2 linked regions of the Homo sapiens genome follow. The protein of the gene in region 2 interacts with the protein of the main gene of each other region in a pairwise test. Each region holds a gene or a part of one and is shown on either strand. Other genes may lie near its edges.

Region 1 (3,824 bases), on a different chromosome or scaffold from region 2:
CAGTATCTGCATGTCATGCAGATATTACAAGGATTGATGAGATACTTGCTTAGCTCTTTATTTTTAAAAGCTGTGCTTGTTTGTATAGGTTACATGTTAATTTATGTTATGTGTCCTAAAATTACCATATAAACAGAATGAAAGACCACCGTTTTTCCTGGGAATATCACTGTGCCTAGTGGATGTGGGTGGAAAAATAAGAAAGGAATTTCGAAGATTAAGAAGGACCTAATATATAAAGAGATAGTTTTTTGTTTTGTATGCAGCTTTTGCATTGCATTTAATTTACCATGTATTGACTGAGTCAGGAATGTGCTAGGTTTTTTACGTATGTAGGGTCATTTATCTTTCCAACAACACTATGAGGTGATTATCTTCTGTTTTATTATTGAGGTAGTTAAAACTGGAGAGATAACATAACTTGTTCACACAATGAGTTAAGATTAACTATAACTGCGACTTCAGTATAACTTCAGTTATAACTGTCTAATTTCACTATAAAATATTGTCTCTTGGGTCTGTGGTCGTATCTTTTATTACCATGTATGGTACTCAGCGTGCATTCTTAAAATGAATAGCCATGCTCTTAAGAGTCTGTATACTGTAGCTGATTTCTTTTAGAGAATAGGTACATTTATTATTTTACATAATCCAAGGTTCATAGTATGCGTGGTGATGACTAGAATCCCAACACTGTATTTTCTATCTTCCTTTTGTTTTCTTGTATTTTAAATACAAGAAAGTTTAATAACTGAAAAGTTCAAGAGAATTGCCCAGGTGTACAAGAATTATAAGTGACAGAGCTATAATTAGGAACACATTGTTAATGACTTCAATTCACTTTTGCTTCTAATGCTGCCCTGTTATCTTTGCTGTCATTATCCCTTATTCTTCCCATCTTAAAGAAAATAACAAGAATAGTATATAAACTGTAAATAACACATTTATGTTTATGATTGTTATATATGAAAACAAAGGCTTGCATAGATGGCATAGAAATGGGCTTTATTAAACAATTGAAACATAGTGAGAGATAAAGGAAAGTCACCACAAAGCCTTGCTTAATCATCAGAGTAAGTGGACTGATGTCAATTTAGCTCCCCTTGCCCTGTTAATCTTCTCTAGGATGTTGATGAAAAAAATAAGTCTGACAGCTACGGTTCTCTGTGGTCATTGTCTATACGTATTTCTCCATGGCTTCCACCAGTAATAATCAGAGGCAGTTGCTTTGTTTGATGTTATGTATAGAATACGTAATATCAGCATTGTAGAAATGGTACTTTGAAAAAATAAGGTAGTATAAATCAATTAGGAGGAGCACAGGCTTTGGTGTCAGTGCACCTTAGTTTGAGGTCTGTTTGTTTGTTTATTTTGAGACAGTCTTGCCCTGTAGCCCAGGCTGGAGTGCAGTGGCATGATCTTGGCTCACTGCAACCTCTGCCTCCCGGGTTCAAGCGATTCTCCTGCCTCAGCCTCCTGAGTAGCTGGGATTACAGGTGCACACCACCATGCCCGGCTAATTTTTGTATTTTTAGTAGAGACCGGTTTCACCATGTTGGTCAGGCTGGTCTTAAACTCCTGACCTCGTGATCTGCCTGTCTTGGCCTCCCAAAGTTCTGGGATTACAGGTGTGAGCCACCACACCCGGCCTTGGGTTTTATTTAGTTTGCTTTTTTAGACCTGGCTCTGTCTTTTGCTAGCTGTCTGACCTTGATCTGGTTATTTCACCGCTGAGTGTCAGAGAAGGGGATAGGTCATGAGAATTAACAGTAAGAGAGTTATTGGGAGGCTGGCATGTGCTGTTACACATAACCAACTCTTGTCCTAGTGCTTAGTGTATAGGAAGTACTTGGTGTCCTCTTTTCTCCTCCTTACCCCAGTCTCTATTATCTTAAGTTTTTAATTTGCCTTTTCTATTCTAGGTGGATTGTAGACATGGAAGGTGCACCAGGTACCTTATATGAAGGGGAAAAATTTCAACTTCTATTTAAATTTAGTAGTCGATATCCTTTTGACTCTCCTCAGGTAATTGCCTTGCTTTAAATTTTTTTTTTTGTATTTTTAGATAGCTAAATGCCAGAGATGTTTGACTCAGTAAAAACATATAAATCAGTTATACGTATGTAGATGGATTTGTTATTTCATTATCTTATTTGTCATATAATCAAGATATGAACATTACACTTTATTGGGATTAGGGCTTTACTGCATTTTGCTTCTAAAATTGTTTCATTTGTTGCTTATCCATAAATGCTAACAGAAAAGGGAATAGAAATCTAACCAGGCCTCTAGGCCAGGGGTCCCCAACCCCCATGCTGTGGACTAGTACTGGTCCATGGCCTGTTAGGAGTCGGGCCACACAGGAGGTGAGCAGCATTACTGCCTGAGCTCTGCCTCCTGTCAGATCAGCGATGGCATTAGATTCTCATAGGAGTACGAGCCTTATTGTGAACTGCACATGTGAGGGATCTAGATAGCACGCTCTTTATGAGAATCTAATGCCTGATGATCTGAGATGGAACAGTTCCATCCCAAAACCATCATCCAATCCCCAACCCCATCCATGGAAAAATTGTCTTCCATCACACCGGTCCCTTGTGTCAAAAAGATTGGGGACCACTGCTCTAGGCCATCGGAGAAGTTGACATTTTGGAATAACTGGAGGCACTTCTCCTAGGTCAGATGGTAGAATCACATGGTGAAGAGAAAAGTTCTCTGTTGGAAGGAGTACTATGATTTTGCATTGACATGCTGTCCTTGCAGCCTTTTAGTACAGGAAGGGCAGAGTACATCATCAGATGTTAAATATCTAAACATCAGCACAAAGTCTGATTATTATAATTTGATGCCCAGTGAGTTTAGTTAATAGCTTAATACTTAGACAAGGGATAATGGTGGTAGAGAAATGTTTTTTGAGAGCTATTTAACTATAGTAAATGATTAATCAGGTTAGAGAAAGGAAGACTCTAGGATGACTTCCAGGTTTCTGGCTTGGTAAGATAAGTAAATGAGTTACTATAATTACTTATTCTTCAGAGAATTATAACAAAGCACTTCATTTTTAAAATTTGAGGCTTGTGAGATCCGTTGGCTAAAATGGTAAGACATGATGCCAGCTCTCTCTAGTATTGCTAGCAAATGAGCTATTCTGGAAAATACAACCAAATACCTGAAATATTTCCCAGATACTGAAAATTTTGCTTGTTGGGTGCTGAAATGTACTATTTGGAGGAAAATCATATTTCATTGTCACTTTAAACAATATACCAAACACAGCTTAATCTTTTCTTAGTTATGTAAGAGAAGAGATAAAGTCAGTTATTGTATCATGCTATAAGTAAAGAGATAATTGTTTTAAAGCATAGATTTAAATGGATACTGACTCCTTAAGTTCTAAAATTTTCATATGAGCAGAAAACTACCAAGACTTTTAGGACTTATTTTTATCATTTTCATAAAAGTTAAAGTGAAAGGGTATGTGCTATTGTGACCTCTAGATGTCTACAATAAGCATTTGTAGACTATAATAAAAAGAACAAACATCTTCTCTCCAGAAGATTGTCATCACTTTTGTTGCTTTCTGGCTGGCCAGCATCATTTCTGACTGTAAATGTGTGGAGACAACAGGATCTCAGTCTGTTTTCATCATCAGCCTATTTGTCTACCTTCAACTAAGTTCAATGATGGTATGGGAAGGAAGAATATTTCACACCAATTCAAAAGCTTTTGACTAGGGAGATATTGGGGGAAGGCTTACTCTGGGAGCTTACAGATTTTTCACCAGAGGAAAATAATATTTCTGTAAGCATGAAACCAAGTCAAAA
Region 2 (3,824 bases):
CCGGGCATGGTGGCTTATGCCTATAATCCCAGCACTTTGAGAGGCCAAGGTGGAAAGATCGTTTGAGCCCAGGAGTTTGAGACCAGCCAGGGCAACACAGAGAGACCCGTCTCTACGAAAAAAAATTTTAAATTAGACAGGTGTAGAAGCACACTCCTGTGGTCCCAGCTAGTCAGGAGGCTAAAGTGGGAGAATCCCTTGGGCCTGGGGGGATCAAGGTTGCCATGAGCTGAGTTTGTGCCACTGCACTCTAGCCAGGGCAACAGAACAAGAGCCTGTCTCAAAAAAAGAAAATACATACGTGTAATATGACATTATGCAGTATATGGATTTCTAGTTAGATAGTATTGCCAGCTAAGGGCTCTGTGAGGCCTGCTCTCTATTCTGATTTAAAAGGGAGATGAACAAAAATTAAGGCATGAAAAGAGTTGAAAATGGAATAATAATTTTCTCACCATGATTAAGAAAAACCTCGTCCTCACACCAGCCTGCATCCTCCACTGGGCACCCCAGTGGAGTGAGGAGATGGGATGTTATATGCTTACCAAAACATAGGTACATATATACATATATGTACAAAACATATAACATTGATACATGATGTGGGAATGGTGAGAGGGATCTGAAGAGGTGGTCTGGGCACCCTGCCTGCCATGCCACCGTGGCCCAGATGGGGCCTGACCCAGCTGACCCTCCCCAGGCTGAGGCCACCATGGAGCAGTGTGCGTGCGTGGAGAGAGAGCTGGACAAGGTCCTGCAGAAGTTCCTGACCTACGGGCAGCACTGTGAGCGGAGCCTGGAGGAGCTGCTGCACTACGTGGGCCAGCTGCGGGCTGAGCTGGCCAGCGCAGGTGGGTGGCCACCCTTGCAAGTGCCCTGCGACAGCCTCCCTGAGGACATGGGAGACCCGAAGCTACTGAGTGACAGGGTTCCGGAAGGACGATGATGAGGATGTTGGTACCTGCATCTGTAGGCCTCCTTGAAACCGGGTAATGACAGTCTCTGAGCTACTTCAAAAAGCCCAACAAATTATTAATTTACCTGAGATGATTCCCATTTACATTTTGTTTTCAACTTACTTTTCTATTTTTAACTTTTTTTCATTTTATAATTGTGTGTGTGTGTGTGTGTGTGTGTGTGTAGAAACAGTGTCTTTGTTGCCTAGGCTGGTCTTTAACTCCTAGGGGCTCAAGTGATCCTCCTGCCTCAGCCTCCCAAAGTGCTGGAATTATATGCGTGAGCCACCATGCCTGGCCTATTTTTAGCTTTTAAGATTTTAAAGATAATTTCAAATTTACAGACCAATTCCAAGAATAGTATAAAGAACTGATATATACCCTTTACTTGGATTCACCAACTGCTCATATGTTGCCATATTTGCCGTGATCATTACTTTTTAACCATTTGAAAATAAGTTGTAGATAACATAGCCCCAAGCCTTCAGTGTGTATGTCCTAAAATCAAGGGCATTCTCTTACATAAAAACAGCGTAGTTATTAAAACCCAGAAATTGCCAGGCACAGTGGCTCACGCCTGTAATCCCAGCACTTCGGGAGCCCGAGGCCGACAGATCACCTGAGATCAGGAGTTTAAAACCAGCCTGGCCAACATGGCAAAACCCTGTCTCTACTAAAAATACAAAAATTAGCTGGGCATGGTGGTGGGCTGCAGTGAGCCGAGGTCACGCCACTGCACTCCAACCTGGGCAACAGAGCAAGACTCGTCTCAAAAAACAAAATAAATAAATCAATCCAAGAAATGAAACATTGATATAATATTACCTAATAACTATAGTTCACATTTCTTTTTTTTTTTTTGAGATGGAGTCTTACTGTTGCTCAGGCTGGAGTGCAGTGGCGTGATCTTGGCTCAACTGCAACCTCCACCTCCCGGGTTCAAGCAATTCTCGTGCCTCAGCTTCCCGAGTAGCTGGAATTAAAGGCGCATGCCACCACCTGCAGCTAATTTTTGTATTTTTTAGTACAGGTGGGGTTTTGACATGTTGGCTAGGCTGGTCTCGAACTCCTGACCTCAAGTGATCTGCCTGCCTCGGTCTCCCAAAGTGCTAGGATTATAGGTGTGAGCCACCATACCCAGCCAGTGTAGTCAACATTTCAATTTTGCCATTGTCCCAGGAATTTTTTTTTTTTTTTGATATAGAGTTTTGCTCTCATTGCCCAGGCTGGAGTGCAATGGCGCAATCTCGGTTCACTGCAACCTCCGCCTCCCAGGTTCAAGAGATTCTCCTGCTTCAGCCTCGCAAGTTGCTGGGTTTACAGGCCCGTACCACCATGCCTGGCTAATTTTTTTTTTTTTTTTTTTGGATTTTTAGTAGAGACAGGGTTTTGCCATGTTGGCCAGGCTGGTCTCGAACTCCCGATCTCAGGTGATCCACCTGCCTCAGCCTCCCAAAGTGCTGGGATTACAGGTGTGAGCCACCATGCCCGGCTGTTCAGGAATTTTCATAAAGCATTTTAATTTCCAGTCCAAGAACCAATCCAAGATCACACACTGCATTTAGTTTCTCCTGTCTAATCTTTACTTTTTTTAATCTGAGACATTTCTTCTGTCTTCCTTTATCTTCCATGACATTGGTATTTTTGAAGCATTAAGGCCAATTATTTTGCAGAACGTCTCTCAATTTGGAGTTGTCTGATGTTTTCTCATTACTTAGGTTTTGCATTTTTGGCAGTACTTCAGAAGTGATTTGTTTCTCAGTGCATCACACTGGAAGACACAAGATGTTGCTTTATTGCATTATTGCTGTTGTTCACTTTTATTTTGGAGACAAGTTCTCACTTTGTTGCCCAGGCTGCAGTGCAGTGGCACGATCTTGGCTCACTGCAGGCTTGACCTCCTGGGCTCAAGTGATCCTACCACCTCAGCCTCAGAAGTAGCTGGGACCACAGCAGTACACTACCAGGCCCTGCTAATTTTTTTTTTTTTTTATTGTAGAGACAGGGTCTCCCTATGCTGTCCAAGACGGTGTCGAACTCCTGGGTTCAAGTGATCCTCCCGTGTCAGCCTCCCAAAGTGCTGGGATTATGATCCGCTGCACCTGGCCTGATCTTCACTTTGATCACTTAGTTAAGATGGTCGCTGCTAAGGTTTTCCACTGTAAACTTCCTAATTTTTCTTTGTAATCACTAAGTAGTTTGTGGGCTGTAATCCTAGCACTTTGGGAGGCTGAGGCGGGCGGATCACTCGAGCCCAGGAGGTTGAGACCAGGCTGGTCAACATGGCAAAACCACATCTCTACTAAAAATACAAAAATTAGCCGGGCATGGTGGCACATGCCTGTAGTCCCAGCTACTTGGGAGGCTGAGGCATGAGAATCGCTTGAACCCAGGAGGTGGAGGTTGCAGCGAGCCAAGATCGCGCCACTGCATTCCAGCATGGGTGACAAAGCGAGACTGTCTCAAAAAAAAAAAAAAAGTAGTTTGTGGGGAGATACTTTGATACCATATAAATGTCCTGCTCTTTACCAAATTTCAGCCTACTAGTTTTAGTATCCATTAATGATTGTTGTGTGAATTATTACTAAGCTGTCTGCAACATGGTGATTTTTCCTGCTTTGTCATTCTTTATACATTTATTAGTTGACATTCAACTGAAAAGAAGCTTTCCCTTCTCCTTTCATTATTATCACTTCACACTCATATTCTTATTTTATTCAATAGGTTATAATCCATTGCAGTTATTTAATGTTCAAATTGTCTTAGGTCTGACCAGAGGGAGTCCCTGGTTCCTATGTCTTTTTTAAAAATTGAGCTATAATTCACTTACCATTAAACTCACTCTTTTAAAGTACTCTGTCCAGGTGC

Evidence for each region.
Region 1: the proteins of RMND5B (region 2) and UBE2W interact in a two-hybrid assay, tested with the Homo sapiens proteins (one large-scale study listed by BioGRID and IntAct).

Annotation. Positions count from the first base shown.
Region 1 is NC_000008.11:73,823,348-73,827,171, reverse strand, and holds part of UBE2W (ubiquitin-conjugating enzyme E2 W), read left to right. Parts: intron 1-1,922; coding exon 1,923-2,025; intron 2,026-3,824. UniProt on the Homo sapiens protein: Accepts ubiquitin from the E1 complex and catalyzes its covalent attachment to other proteins.
Region 2 is NC_000005.10:178,137,408-178,141,231, forward strand, and holds part of RMND5B (E3 ubiquitin-protein transferase RMND5B), read left to right. Parts: intron 1-700; 5' UTR 701-712; coding exon 713-851; intron 852-875; exon of another isoform or gene 876-989; intron 990-3,824. UniProt on the Homo sapiens protein: Core component of the CTLH E3 ubiquitin-protein ligase complex that selectively accepts ubiquitin from UBE2H and mediates ubiquitination and subsequent proteasomal degradation of the transcription factor HBP1.